Homo sapiens: one gene and its partner. The protein of the gene in region 1 purifies or fractionates together with the protein of each later gene. This does not show direct contact. Each region holds a gene or a part of one and is shown on either strand. Other genes may lie near its edges.

What was found. Proteins that work in one complex are often made in the same cells at the same time.
Region 2: the proteins of SRFBP1 (region 1) and ZNF346 purify together in Homo sapiens (co-immunoprecipitation; one large-scale study listed by IntAct). This does not show direct contact.

What each region holds. Positions count from the first base shown.
Region 1 is NC_000005.10:122,013,975-122,017,474, reverse strand, and holds part of SRFBP1 (serum response factor-binding protein 1), read right to left. Parts: intron 1-3,500. UniProt on the Homo sapiens protein: May be involved in regulating transcriptional activation of cardiac genes during the aging process. May play a role in biosynthesis and/or processing of SLC2A4 in adipose cells.
Region 2 is NC_000005.10:177,039,696-177,043,195, forward strand, and holds part of ZNF346 (zinc finger protein 346), read left to right. Parts: intron 1-1,430; coding exon 1,431-1,534; intron 1,535-2,082; coding exon 2,083-2,175; intron 2,176-3,500.

The DNA of each region.
Region 1 (3,500 bases):
TAAGACTGGTTTCCTTATAAGGAGAAGAATATTTTGATATAGGGGCACAGAGAGACACAGTAAAGACTACGTGAACACTAAGGGCAAAGATTGGAGTTATCCTGGCATCAGCCACCAGTAGCTCAAAGACACAGGAAAGTTTCCCCTCTGGAGCTTCCAGAGAAAGTGTGGCCTCACTGACACCTTAATTTCAAGCTTTCACCCTCCTCAACTGTGAGAAAATAAATTTACTTTTTTGTTGTTGTTGTTGGGAGTCTCACTCTGTCACCCAGGCTGGAGTTGCAGTAGCGTGATCTTGGCTTACTGCAACCTCCGCCTCCCGGGTTCAAGCGATTCTCCTGTCTCAGCCTCCCGAGTAGCTGGGACTACAGGCACCCGCCACCACGCTCAGCTGATTTTTGTATTTTTAGTAGAGATGGGGTTTCACCACGTTGGCCAGGCTGGTGTCGAACTCCTGACCTTGTGATCCACCTGCCTCGGCCTCCCAAAGTGCTGGGATTACAGGTGTGAGCCACCGCGCCTGGCCAATTTACATAGTTTTAAACCACTCAATTTGTGATACTTTGTTATGGCAGCCTTAGGAAACTGATACGCATCTATTCTGACTATTAGACACAGCTTCTGTTCAACCTTTTCCAAGAAATGTCGTCTACTCATGGACCATTCATTTAAGTACAGCGCAAAGTGAACCTGTTTCTTCAACCTGCTGCTGAGTTTCCTGATACAATAGAGGAAAGATAGAAAAAAGATAATTTAGGAAGGAAGGTTATTGCTAGTATCCTGAGTCACTTAGTGACAAGCTGAGCTGCTGAAGGCATAGGTCAAACATGCTTGCTTGAGTATTAAAAGCTAGAATATAGAAACTCCAATGAAAAACATGATTTTTCAGGCTAAGAAGACTGAAAACAATATATGAAAATAGTCACATTAGTATATTGGGACCTACAAGATTTCAGATAATAAAACAAGTCACCAAATAATAAACTAAAAAGAAAAGACGCACAGATCACAATGGTTTCAGACTTTAATTCTGGAAGTCAAACTATAGAGCAGCTAATGCTTCTAAAATTATGAAGGAAAAGAATTTCCAACCTAGGGAAGAAGAAAAATACTTCCACACATGCAGTTTATTCAAAAAAATTTACATCCTTGTACATTTCTGTCCAAGAAGCTACTGGCTCCCCTAAAATGAGGAAGGATACAAATAATAAGAATGGCATAGGAGACAAGAAACAGAAGACTTAGGCAGAAGGAACTTCCCAGGATGATGGTGACAGGAGACTTAGGTTTGGGATACTTGGTGTGCTGAATATCTGGAGAGGACATATCAATAGCAGATGGAGAGTTTGGTGTTACACTACAGATAAGACAGAAAACTAACAAAATAAACCTATCACAAACTGTAGAAAACAGAAATATTATGCAGAAAAGTAGTAATAACTCAGTACATGACTCACAGTCACAATAACATAATCAATAAATGTTCACCTAATCTGATTCAAGTATATAAGGAGGATGAAGGGGGGATATCAGGAGATAAGTATATGAGGAGGATGGAGGGGATATATGACTTAGAGCCTGAAGGAGAAAAGAGATCTAAATCTTTACCTACCACAACATAAAGTTAATAGCTAGTGCTTAAAATAAAAAAGCTAATACAGTACATAAACATCTTACTGTAGGGGTAAACTCTATGCGAACTAACTGCAATTGAAGCAGGAAAGGAATAATAGAGTACTGCCACTTTTATAAAAAAATTCTTGTAGAAGTATTTGATTTTCAAAACCAGGAATTGGCAAACTGGCCCATGGGGGCTGTTCCAGCCTGCCGCTGGAACTTTCTTTTATTTAATAAAGTTTTATGGAACAAAGCCAAAGTCATTCATTTATATATTGCCTATGTCTGCACTCACGACACAATGGTAAAGCGAAGTAGTTGTGACAGAAGCTGTGTGTCTTACAAAGGCATTCATTTCAGGTCCTTTACAGAAAAAGCGTGATGCCTGCTCTAAATTACATGCAAGTAGAATCCTTGGTGGGGCAGAACTAAAAAATCAGGAAGAAAGAAAAAACTGTGTAGTAGGCCCGTGATGTTTAAAAATTTAAAATAAAAATACTACCATGACAGACTTCTGTTGCCAAATTAAAGCAACAGATTATAGCAGTAAGTGTGCTTCCAGATTGGTAACACAATTTGAGATTCTGTCTTGGTAGAAACAATTTGGTATCCAATGAAGAAGCAGTATATTTTAATCCTCAGGATTAATTACAGAAGGTTGGTATGTAAAAACAATGACAACAAAAATGACTAATCCTGAGAAGTGTATTCCCCAAGAAACTGCCCTTCAGGTTATAGGAAAAAAGAAGATATTCCAGGAGCAGCTTTTTACCTTTTACTGCTTCTTTCAGCATGTTTACCTCTTATAGTTTCTAAAAATCCACTTCAAAGGTAATTCTCAATATATGAACAGATATAAAACAGACATAAGAAATTCTGGGAATCCTAACCAGATTTTGATTAAAATGTATTCAAACAATTGTTGAAAAACACATCTACTGCTGTTTCCAAATCCCTGTTTTGACAACTTGCTAAAATCTTTGCTGAACTGGGTATTTCTTTCCAGAGTTAGCTATATCTTCCCATCTTAGTTATAACAAGTTTTAGAAGAGCAGTGGTAATACTTGCATGTCTAGTGTGGACTCCGGGGTAAATGCTATTTTGTTAAGAGTCATTTTATCATTAATTTTATTTAGCAAAGCTGTTTCTCTGCCCTGGAAGATATCCCAGACTAACGCTGATTTAGTAATCTCATTTCAGTGAATTTCATTTTTTTCTGAAAGGCTCTAGAAAAAGATTTACAATTCTATAATTATGTACGAATCTCATGAATGAAGATTTTTTTAATTTTTTTTTTCTAATGTCTTCTTCTATAACTGTGTTTTTATGTTGCAATCTTTGTGGAGCACTTATTTGTGGAAGAATATCAAGTTTATATAAAATGAGACTGATTCGAAAAGGGCCACCGTGTTGCATAATCCCCGGAGAGTCACTCACATTGTAGTTGTCAAATTGGAGCTCTGCAGCCATATGTAGCAGCAGTGAGTCAAAGGAGAACATAAAAGTTTGGGTCTACAGGGTATGTAGGTATATAAAATGAGTAGTTATGTAGAATTATGTATACTACAGCTTTAGGTTCTATAATTATATGCAATTTGTGTTTCTGAATAACAGTTAATGCTATCAGCTGATAAAATGTTATAAATATATAAATATTGTTATAAAACTCTAAGATGTGTTTTCTGTTTTATTTTGACAATAATTTTAGACACTTATAGAGTACAAAGTGATATTGACACATGCATACATTGTAGAATCATCAAATCAGAGTAATTACCATATCTACCACTTTAAACATTTATCATTTCTTTGTGATGGGAACATTTTAAATCCTCTCTTTTGGCTATTTTGAAATATATTAACTGTAGTCACCTTGCTGTGCT
Region 2 (3,500 bases), about 55 Mb from region 1:
TCAAACTCCTGGGCTCAACCCATCCTCCCACCTCAGCCTCCCAAAATGCTGGGATTACAGGTGTGAGCCACTGTGCCTAGCCTTGACCACTTTTTGGCTGAGACCAGGAGATTAAAAATGTGGGCCTGCCCTCCTCTCCCAGTTTTAGACTCTGCCTCTGCCTCTGCCTCACATTGCCAGCGCCATGATAGAACTCATGCCTTGGCCGGGCGCGGTGGCTCACGCCTGTAATCCCAGCACTTTGGAAGGCCAAGGTGGGTGGATCACGAGGTCAGGAGATCGAGACCATCCTGGCTAACACGATGAAACCCCGTCTCTACTAAAAATACAAAAAAATTAGTTGGGCGTGGTGGTGGGTGCCTGTAATCCCAACTACTCGGGAGGCTGAGGCAGGAGAATGGTGTGAACTTGGGAGGCGGAGCTTGCAGTGAGCCGACATCATGCCACTGCACTCCAGCCTGGGTGACAGAGCGAGACTCCCTCTCAAAAAAAAAAAAAACAAACAAAAATGAACTTATGCCTTGGGAGAGATTTTACCTCCTCTTCTCTTCTCAAAAAGGTAAGACTGTTCTCCAGGCACAATAATTTAAGCACAGGTTAATACCATGTTTCATATAGTGTGGCACTTATATAATACGTTATGTGATTTTATTTTATTTATTTATTTAGAGACAGAGTCTAGCTCTGTCACCCAAGTTGGAGTTAGTGGCACAACCTCAGCTCACTACAACCTCTGCCTCCTGGGTTCAAACAATTCTCCTGCCTCAGCCTCCCGAGTAGCTGGGATTATAGGTGCCTGCCACCACACCTGGCTAATTTTTGTATTTTTAGTAGAGACAGGGTTTCACCATGTTGGCCAGGCTGGTCTCGAACTCCTGATCTCAGGTGATCTGCCCACCTCGGCCTCCCAAAGTGCTAGGATTACAGGCGTGAGCCACCACGCCCCACCCTGTTATGTGATTTTAAATGTTTCAAAGTCAGATCAAGAACAATGAGAAAAGTATTCCTTTTTCGAGTCTTTCAGTCCTCCTGATTCTATCTGGGAAGAAGTTTCAGTTGGGTGCTACCATATCTTAAAACCTCTCAGCACAGTTGCTGTTCTCTTCTTCCTGGGGAATGCTCCAAGCCTCATTTTTATCATATTTATTTTTATTGGTATCTGCTTAAGTTTATGATCTAAAGATTCCTTTTTAAAAGAAGTTCCTAAGTAAAGAAAGTTGGCATACATAAAATTATAAAATAAGTAATAGTGTAGGTGGTGTGAGAACACAGCATGAGTCACGGTGGCAGTAGGAAAGGCTGGCTGAGGTCTGCCAGTGTCCTAGTATGGCATCCCATCATTCAGTGCCTGTGTTTGAGGCAGGGTTCAAAGGCAGTGCTGTTGAGGTAGTGTTTGTCAACTCAATGATTTCTTGTTTTCCCCTCTATAGTGGAGCACATGATCCAGAAGAACCAATGTCTCTTCACCAACACCCAGTGTAAGGTTTGCTGCGCCTTGCTTATTTCTGAGTCCCAGAAGCTGGCACATTACCAGGTATGCCATCATACTTTTAGAACTGCGTTTCTTTTCAGACCTGGTGCCAAACCACTAATTCTCTCTGGCTTGCATGGTGAAGTGTAATTGCTGCTTAGCCACCCAGATGTTGCCTCCATGCATGTTGGCTTGTGACTTGAAGATTGACTTAATCTCCTTGAGTCTCATCTCCCCCATCCAAATCAGGATCATTATATGTGTATCTTCCCTTGCAGCTTGGCATAGCATAAAGTATGAGCTTTGGCTTTAAATAGATCTGACTTTAAATCAAAACTCTGCTACTCATCTTGAGCAAGAAACTTCATCATTTTTAGATGTAGTTTCCTCATCCATAAAATAGAAATGGTCATAATTTTCTCATAGATTGTGAAGATTAAATTTGGTAGCTGTAAAATGCCTTGCACAGAGCAGGAACTCAAACTTCCCTCACCTCCTCCTCAAAACTTTTTGTGAGGATGAATCAGATGAAAATCTCATAAGTGTTTTTGAGTGCCTTAAGTATGAAGTAGCATTTGGCTATCTTTGATCTTTCTCCTGGGTTTTTGCAGAGCAAAAAACATGCCAACAAAGTGAAGAGATACCTAGCAATCCATGGAATGGAGACATTAAAGGGGGAAACGAAGAAGCTAGACTCAGATCAGGTAATACAGCTGCCATATTGAGCCCACTTGCTTCATGATGAAGCCAGCCAGCAGGTTGGTGTGGTGAACAAGTCAGACTGTCTTGGCTTCAAATCCTGGCCCTGTTGTGTGACTCGGGCAAGTCTATTACTTCACAAAGCCTTGATTTCTTCCTCTATAAAAATGAGGATGGTAATATCAACTACCTTTCAGGATTTTTTAGAACTAAAATTGAGGGCAGATTTATAAAAAGCACCCAATTCAGAGCCTGGCACATAGTAGGGACTCAGTAATGGAGCTGGTATTACATATTACCGCCTAGTGGTTTGTTAGAGCAAGACAAGAGAAAATGGAAAGAAGCCAGGCTGCTTGCTTTCTTGAGGGCCAAGGAAAAGAACTAAGTTCAGCACTTGAATGTTTTGCATAAATAAGCAGAAGGAACACCTTTCCAAATGTCTGCTGTGATTGAGAGGTGATCACATGTGCTTTTTGGCTCAGAAATAATATGAGCATTATGCTGAAGCAACCCCCAATCCCTCAGGAGTACCATCTCATCATGGGAAGAGAAGTTAAGCAGACTAGGGCTCAAAGCTGGCTGTGTGTCTTACTGATCGGGTGAGTTTGGCCAAGTCACTTAACCTCTGTGAACTTCCCCCATAAAGTAGAGATAATGCCTACTTCTTAAGGGTATTGTGAGGTAAAATTTCAATTCCTAGTAGATGCTCAATAAATAAGAGTTTACTCTATAGACTGCTACCTCCTATTATAGTAGCCACAGGTCAGGAAGGTCCTTGTTTATCTCTTCTCAAAATTTACTGGACTCATCCCCTGGTTTCCCTTATTATTTATTTATTTATCCCTGGTTTCCCTCCTTTCTATTTCTCTATCTGTCTATTTGTGAGACAGGACCTGGCTCTGTTACCCAGGCTGGAGTGCAGTGGTGCAGTCACGGCTCACTGCAGCCTCAACCTCCCAAGCTCAAGTGATCCTCCCACTTCAACCTCCCAAGTAGCTAGGACTACAGGCACACACCACCACGCCTGGCTAACTGGAGTGCAGTGGCACGATCTCAGCTCACTGCAACCTCCACCTCCTGGGTTCAGGCGATTCCCCTGCCTCAGCCTCTGAAGTAGCTGGGACTACAGGCACGCGCCACCACACCCAGCTAATTTTTGTATTTTTAGTAGAGATAGGGTTTCACCAGGTTGGCCAGGCTGGTCTCAAACCTCTGATCTCAAGTGATCTGCCTGCCTCAGCCTCCCAAAGTGCTGGGATTACAAGTGTGAGCCACTGCGCCCAGCCGCCTGGCTGATTTTTTAAAAAATTTTTCGTAGAGACAGGGTCTC